Linked DNA regions of Homo sapiens: region 2 is linked to region 1. The links come from fine-mapping of genetic effects on gene expression. A gene starts in region 1. The other region holds a variant in brackets. All regions are shown on one strand. Distances are from middle to middle. Region 1 holds the start of RIMS4 (regulating synaptic membrane exocytosis 4). Region 2 has its middle 15 kb from the start of KCNS1.

Region 1 (4,265 bases):
GTCAACAAATTCTTCTGGAGAAAGGGCAGGAAGACATGCCCACCACTTCATCCCATGATGGAACCTTGGTGGCCAGGTTGATCAGACAAGGGTCCCCAAAGACTAAGTCTAAACCTGGGCCCAGGAACTTCCTAAAACCGTAGGCTACATTTTGTGGATGGTGCATATATGCACTTCGGGAGAGATAGTCCATGTTTTCCTCAGAGACTTGAAAGTGCCCATGAAACCATTTTGCTCCTCAAGCACATACACTCCTCCAGCACATACACTCCTCTGTTTTGTTCCCCCATTGAATTCAAAGACTCTCGGATTTTCACCTTATAAAACACTGAACTCCACCCTCACACCATACAGAGCTTTGCATCGATACGATGATCCCCATTTCAGAGATGAGGAAATCCAGGCTCAGAGGTGGCATGACTTGCCCAAGGTCACAGCTAAGAAGTAGAGAATGAAGACTGGAACCTGATTCCGATTCCCAATCTGGCATTCTTTGGGGAACTCTCACCCAAGCCCTCTAGCTACCCCACCTGTTGGTGGATTCCCTTCCTCACCCCAGAACCAAATCCGGAGCTCTCATGTTCCTTCTGCCGGGTCCCAGGGCCCTAAAGAGTAGGTTTCCCTACAGCTCCCCACCCCTCGCTCTGGCTGAGGTTGTGCGCAGGCCTGGGAGGAGGAGGTTCAAGCCGCTGGCTGGTGGCCGGCTTCAGCCCACCAAGAAAGGCGACTCCAGGGACAAGAGCACCTGAGGTCAGGGGCACACACCAGCGGGCGGACAAGTGTAGAGTTGGCGCCGCCCTACACCTCTCTCCGGGAAGAGAGGGGAGGAAAGGCCGTCACCTGGCCGGTTCCCCTCCGTCTGCCCCAGGCGTATAAGAAGCAGGAGTCTGGAGCCCCAGCCCATGAGGGAAGGAGAGGAGAGATAAATGGGGGCGCTCAAGGCCTGGGGCGCCGGGCAGGGGTCTTGGGCAGGGATCCTCTGGATGTGGCCAAGACAAAGATGGAGAGGTAAGGTCTGCGCGCCACCTCCAATGGCGGGGGGCGCGTCGGAGCCCCAGGGGTGGGACGGCCAAAGCCCAGGGCTTGAAGAGTGGGCACATTCAGGAGACTCAGGGAGGGTGGCAGGTCGGCTCCAGGGACGAGGCAAGGGGCCTCCAATAGGCGCGGGTGAGGAGGGAGATGGGTCCTGGCGACCCAAAGGGCCCACCTGCGGGAAAGGTGAATGCAGACAATCTCGGGGTCCCTGGGGGAGAAGGCCAGAAGGTAGCGCATCCTGGAGACCCTGGGGTCCCGTGGGTGCGGAAGGAGACCCTGGGGGCGCCTTCCCAGGGGATTGGGGGTGGGGAGGAGGGCGCACGGGTCGGGGAGGGGGCTACCGGACCTGGATCCCGGGACACCCCGGGGGTCTGGGGGGCGGGCCGCGCGCTTACCTGCGTCCTCGTCGTCGAAGGAGTTCATGCACGGGAAGTAGATGGCGAGCGCCTCGAAGGAGGCGGACAGACTGAGGCGGCTCTGCGAGCGCTCCATGCCCGCGCCGGCGCCGGGCGCCTCGGCCGCGGCGGCGGCGGCGGCGGCGGGCGGCTTGGGCAGCTTGGCCGCCCCATTCTTGACGCGGAGTACGGCGCGCGGCGTGGTGGCGGCGGCCCGGGGCCGGGCCGAGGCTCCGCTGCGGGGCTGGCGGGCGCGGCGGGGCCGGCGGGCGGGCCAGGAGCTGGCGGCGCGCGGAGCCCGAGGCGCGCTGTGCTGCTGGCGGCGGCGGCGGCGGCGGCGGTGGCGGCGGCGGTGGCGGCGCAGCGCGCTCTGGTCCGCGGCGCCCCCCGCCGGCAGCGCGAGGCGGGCTTGGAGCGGCGCCGCAGCCAATCCGTGCCGCCGGGGGAGGGGGCGCCGCTGCGGGGCGTGGGAGCCCGGAGGGCGCGGGCTGCGGCCTCTTCTAGCAGCCCCCGGGCCCGGCAGGTGCGCGCGGGGAGGCAGGCGCCGGGCGAGGTTGTCTGGGCCCTGGTCCGAGGGCTGTTCCCGACCCCGCCTCGGCCCCCACCCTCAGCCGGCCGACTTGCGGAGAGGCCGGCGTCCAGTCCCTCACCCAGACAGGCCTCTCCCAGAGACACTGGCGCGCTCGGAGGGGATGCGCTCAAAGGGTCCCGCCCAGGCGGGTCGGCACTCGGCCTCCCACACAGAGACCCTCGGCTTCACACCTGCACCCACAGAGAAGCTCAAACAGGCACCCACACCTACACATTCACTCTGCAACATGCCCCGCAGACACCCGGACAGATACACCCACAGACCCACCCCCTCACAGATGCGGGGACAGACACGTCCACGGACACACGCAGACTCACGCAGAGACCTGCAAACACACTCAGGGAGGTAGGCAGGACATCCCTGGTGCCCGGCCTCCCTCACGGGGAGACTCTCAGATGCCACAAAACCCCACGAAGTTCAGGTAGGCATACACAGTCTCATGCATTCACACTTACCAAAGACACCCCAGAATTCATACACACATTCATACACTCAGATGAACACACAAGCCCAGACCCAGCACACACTCTGTGTCGCCTCCCCCTGTGATCATCTCAGCACTGTCAAACACTCTGACTGACACGGCCAGATGCACACACCTTCACCCTCAGACACACTAGAGTAGCACACACACGCCAAGACACAGCCACACAGACTCCATCCCTCCCAGTGTGGGTGCATCCCGACGGATTGACTGACACCCTCAGACTCAGGTACACTGAGACACACTTGGCAGGCTCACACTCACAGACTCTCCCATTATCACCCTCGGCGACCCGCAGTCCTCAGACACACACGGGCTCAGACACTCACAGCCCCAGGACAGAGACGAGCGAATCGGAAACCCGTGTTCCATTCCCTGCATGTGACCTGGGACGTGAGGGTCCCTGCCCACCTAATCAGGCCCCAGATGTCAAACAACCTTCTCAGCTGCTCGCACACCTCTTTATGAAGCCATCTGGCGACATGGAAACAGTTCAGGCCTCAGAAAGAGACAGCCCAGAGTTTGAATCTCAGCTGTGGTGCTGTCTTTCTGGGTGGCCTATGGCAAAACTCTTTATCCCATGGGTCCTGTTCCTCATCTGTACAATGGGGACAGGAGCCTTCCATTTTGGATGGTTGTGAACTGCCTGTAAGATAACACAGGTGTTTGTTTTCTATTGCTGCATAACAAATGAAGCAGCTTAAAAACACCAATCTAGTGATTTACAATCCTGTAGGTCAGAAGTCTGGGCAGCCTGAGCTGGGTTCTCTGCTTAGGGCCTCACAAAGTATTGGCCAGACTGGGCTCTTCTCTGCAGGCTCTGGAGAAGAATCCGCTTCCAAGATCATTCAGGTTGTTGGCAGGATTCAGTTCCTTGTGGTTGCAGGACTGAGGTTCCTGTTTCCTTGCTGGCTGTCAGCCAGAAGTCAACCTCAGCTCCTAGAAGTGGCTTTCTGGTCCTTTCACCTGGCCCCTTCCACCTTCAAGGCCAGTTTCAGGATGTCAAGCCCTTCTCATCCTTCAGTAGAATCTTTCTACCTTGGCTTCTGCTTACTGGCCTGAGAGATTCTGCTTTTAAAGGTCTCGTGTGATTAGATCAGGTCCACTCGCATGATGTCCCTTTGACATATAATGTAATATAATCACGGTAGCGATTCCTGATCAGGGTCGCAGTTTCCACCCATGCTCACACAAGGGCGGGATCACACAAGGTATTACATAAGGGCAAGGATCACTGGAGTTATTCTGACACATCTGCCCATCACAGTGTGCAAAACACCTAGCACAGTGCTGGCCTTCGGCAGGTGCTCCTGAGCCCTAGCCCCTTCCCAGGGACCAGATCTAGACTTTGAGGCAGCCTGGTGTCATGGTTAAGAGTGCTGGTATAATCATCCCCATCTTGGTCAATGGCAGCTCCATTTTTCCACTTGTTTGGATCAGAAATGTTGGATACTTGACTCCAGTCTCACACACACCACATTCAATCCATCAGCAACTCCTGTCATTTCTATACACAAAATGTAACCAGAAACTGACCACTTCTCTGCCCCAAACCCTCCCATCTCACAGTCAAAGTCCATGTTCTACAAGGTCCTAACTTCTTTGGCTCTGCCACCCCTCTGTCTTCATACCCAGGACACCCCGGTGGCTCACTCGGCTTCAGAACATCTGTACTGCTGTTCCCTCTGCCTGAAGCCCTCTCCCTTGCAAAGGGCTGTGTAGCTCACTCACAGATCTCTGCTCAAATGTCACTTTCCCT
Region 2 (4,265 bases), 270 kb after region 1:
GATGAATGAATAAACAAAATAGGGCCTACACATACAATGAAATATTATTCAGCCTTCAGGAGGAGGAAATTCTGACACATGCTGCAACATGGATGAACCTTGAGGACATTATGCTAAGTGAAATAAACCAGTCACAAAAGGACAAATACATGATTGGACTTACATAAGGTACCTAGAGTAGCAAGGTCTCTTCATAGAGACAAAGTAGAATGGTGGTTGGCAGAGGGAGGGAGAGAGGGATGGGGAGTTAGTGTTTAATGGGCCCAGAGTTTCAGTTGAGGAAGATGAAAAAGCTCTGGAGACAGATGTTCTTACAACAATGTGAGTGTACTTAATGCCACAGAACTTTACACTTAAAAATGGTTGAAATGGTAAATTCTATATGTATTTTGCCACAATAAAAAATCCAGATACAAACTAGTACATACTGTGCAATTCTTTTTATATACAGTTCAGAACCAAGGAAACCTACTCTATGATGTTAAAAGTCAGGGCAACGATTGCCTTTGTTGGTTGTGGGGTAGTGACTGGATGTGAGTATGAGGAGGGACTACAGTGCTACTCAGGTTCTAATTCTTTGAGTGCTTGTTACACAAGTGTGTTCATGATGAGAAAATTTATCAATGTGAACTCTTAGGATCTGTGCTTTTTTTTCCCATATGTATTTTATACTTGAATAAACAAGACTTTTTGCCTTCTACTCCACTGGGCTCTTTTAGAAGCTTCCAAGACCATGGATGGGAAGGCCCCTTGGAAACTACCTAGGCCTCTGCAGATGTAAGGGGTGGTTACTCTTAGCCCATGAGCATTTATCCCAGCCACATCTTGTTCTGATGAATGATCCAACAGAGGCCCAAGACTTGGCAGTGTCAAGTCTGGATTCAAACTTAGGCTTCTTGACTCCAGTGTTCACTCCAGGACCCCAACTATGGCCTCAAGTGTGAGTCCAGGTTGTGATCTCTAGATAAGCAAACCCCTTCCTTTCCCAGTGCCCTCTGCTTGGAGTTGCTTTGCCCTCCAGAGGAAAACAAGAGCCCTGGTAGAGGCTGCTGAGCTCTATTTCCTTGCTTTGCATTTTTTGGGCTTCTTTAATATTTAACCTTGTGCCAGGCATTTTCATACATATTATCTTACTTGAACTTGCCCATAACGCTCTGAGGTGTAGGTGTTATTAAACCAAGATAAGTGAAGAAACAGGCTCAGAGAGACAAAGAAACCCAACCAAGATCACACACCTCATAAGAAGCAGATTCAAGCCCAACTTGCTGGACTTAACCACATTCTTTCCTCTGCATCGCATGGCATCCCTCATATTCTCCCATTTTATTCAAATATTGTAAATAACTCACTGTCTGAAGCCAACACAGAAACACAGAGCAGAGAGAGAAGCAGGGAAAAATGACAAGATGACTTCAGTGGAACCTCTGGATCCACCTGTACTTAAGTCACTTTGTTGGGTCTCTTTCACTTGTACCTGAAAGATTCCTTATTGATCTAGGTATGTAGGAAAAGATGGCAGGGAGGTGGGGTGGGGGTTGGATACCAGTTGGGGGTTGGTCCTGATAATAATACCCCTTAGAGGTCAACAGGTCCAATCTAGGGTCACACACTGATGAGTGGCAGGGCCAATATTTGAACCCAGATGTGACTTCAAAAACCAAGGTGTGTGCAATTCTTCCTCTTGAATGAATGAATTTCTTGAGGGTTCTGAACTCTACCCTTCTGAGCAAGGTTAAATACCAGTCTACAACTGCCCTTGTCCTTTTCTTCCTTTCTAGCAGACAGGATTCTGAAAGACATTCCCTGTGCCACCCCCTCCCCTTCCTTCTCAAAGACTCCTGTCTTAGAAGATTATCTTCTCAACTTACTAACTTCCTGGAGAATTCTTTCCACACA[G/A]GCAGGGCCGGACTGGCCTGAAGTATGAGGTCTGGTATTGAGGACCATCCCAGCCAGCACCTCAGGGCTGTTTCCAGAGCCTTCAGATAGAAGAAACTCATTATAGGACGCACACTTCAAAGCCACTTCCTTCAGTGGTGCCTGGGGAGTTAAGTTTACCAGACAAAGTGATAATAGTGGGAAGTGGTGCTGAGTGAGTACAATCTGGTATTAAAAAGCCTGAGTTTGAATCCCTGATCTGCTACTTTTTAACTGTCTGACCATGGATCTTGGTTTTTTCATCTGTTCAGTGGTGATACTACTATTTTATTGTTGTTGCTGTTGTCTTGTGGAGTTGTTGTGAGAAGTATATGAGATAATGTATGTGAAACCACTTTGCAAATTACAGTGACAAGGATATGTGGAGGATGACTATTATTTGCTAGGCTATCTTCACTCTTGGGGGCTTCAAAGAGTACCATATAAGTCAACTGGAGTCTTCCACTCTGATGTCCCAGTGTAAACACCCTGCTTGGCCCTTATTTGAGCTGAACAGCTCTTCTTACTCAAAGGGATTGAGGAATGGGATTTGCTTCTTGTCTGACCTTGGACTTCTGGGTCTCTCTTTTCTGATCTGTAAAATGGGGCTGGAGAGGGGGCAGATCTTCAATCTGATAATCCCTAAGGAATATTATGTCTCACTCACAAGGGAAGTCGCCACCTTGAGGTCACTGCAAAGAGGGGGAAACTCAGTTTGTTTATCATTAACAACAAGCACATCACATCTCAGAGCCCAGATGTGCTGAGCTGTCCCACATGCCCCCAGTTGCTCCCTAACATCTCTGGACATTATCCTTCCATTTTACAGAAGTTGAAACTGAAGACCAAGAGAGCAAGACTGCAAGGGATTACTATGAGATCCGTCCTGTACTCCCTCTTCTGGGAACTGCTTGACTCCTACCCCAGCCATAGGTTCACATGATCCAACCCCTTCGCCACAGTTGAGTGATCCAGTCATCTCACCCAAGGTGACCAATCTCTGGGCCAATCAGATTTTTCAAACTGGAAATGGGAAGTTCTCTAGTGGAGGCGCTACAAGATACCAAACTGGGAGATGTTGGTAACCCTGTTATCTACCATGTGATGCAGAAACCAATTTCTCCGTCTGTCTATCTGTTTCTCTGTCTCTCTCTCTCATTCTTGATTTCGTCGTTGCTGAAACCAAGCTGCCTGGCTGCCATTCTCACTCAGTGGTATTGTAAAAGATATGTGTTGGTTTTGTCTCCCCTGGATCCTTTCCCCTCATTTTAATGAAAGGACCCTCATCTTCCTTCAGGGAGCTACCCCTCTGCCATCTATGTCCTGGTGGGACTGTCTGTGATAGTTCCTCCCATCTCACCCCGAAATCATGTGATGAGCATATGACCCAAACCAGTCTAGTTAGACTCAATCTTCAGAGAATTTTTTAGCTTGAGCAGAGTGATTTATACAATGGAGGCAGTTGTCACTAAGCTATTTTAATTGTAGTGCCCCAAAGAGGTGATTTATGAGTTTTACCTACCTCAATCCCTATGTTGCTCGAATTGCTGTCTTTCTCAAAGCCTTGTTGTTTAATTTGACTTTGATCCTATCCAGTACCTTTCCAATGCAGTCCTTTTTTGGCTTAAGTTTTCCAGAGTTGGATTCTGTTGTTTGCAACCAAAAATTCCTAACTGATACAGAAATTGGAACTAGAGTTGAGTTGTAGACACCATATCCTCTAGGAAATGTGGGATATTTCCTAAGACTGTGATGGGGCAAAATACAATGAGGTTGTTGCTCATGCTCTAGTCTGGGAAGCCAGCAATGGTCTGCAATGGTAAAGACCTATGTCTTACATTACTTCATAGCATCTGACCACTGAGGAGGCTCTCAGAGAAGGGATAACACGTGTCACAGTTAATTTTAAGGAAGTGAGGAGTGTTCAGGCTGTGTGATAGAGTATTTTGTTTCTAACCACATAGATTAATATAAAGGGAGAGTCAACAAAGGAAGCCCCAATGCCTTTTTTTTTAACATAAAAAAAATTCATAAACAGAATGAACGGACAGCATTTCTATGACTACGGTAAAAGACTCTCTTATGACTTGCAGTAGGGCCTAGTTCTCCAAATACCAAAGTTGGCAATTGATGATGCAGGCTGCTGAATTCACAGCCCTGCTGCACTTTGTGAAGTTAGGCATTAATAGGCAGTGGGATTATGACAAGTGGAATGATCATATGAGAGGATGTGGGAGAAAACTGAAAGCTCTCTAAAACACTGGGTGCAAACAATTCACACCTTTTCTTAGAGGAGAAAGCTCACAATTTTCTGCTTGCCCCATCCCTCAAGGCTACTTAGCTGGAAGGTG

The links. PIP is the estimated chance that this variant, and not a neighbour inherited with it, causes the effect. A credible set is the group of variants that fine-mapping cannot tell apart.
Region 2: its variant is the best candidate, but not a certain one, in a credible set for the expression of RIMS4 in thyroid (GTEx, PIP 0.84).

What each region holds. Positions count from the first base shown.
Region 1 is chr20:44,808,745-44,813,009 of GRCh38, forward strand. RIMS4 (regulating synaptic membrane exocytosis 4) reads right to left here and starts at 1,802. Exons shown (of 6, transcript NM_182970.4): 1 at 1,431-1,802. The coding sequence starts at 1,527.
Region 2 is chr20:45,083,515-45,087,779 of GRCh38, forward strand. No RefSeq gene overlaps it. Among named protein-coding and RNA genes, the nearest start is that of KCNS1, 15 kb to the right of the region's middle. The variant G/A (reference allele first, on the strand shown) is at 1,897.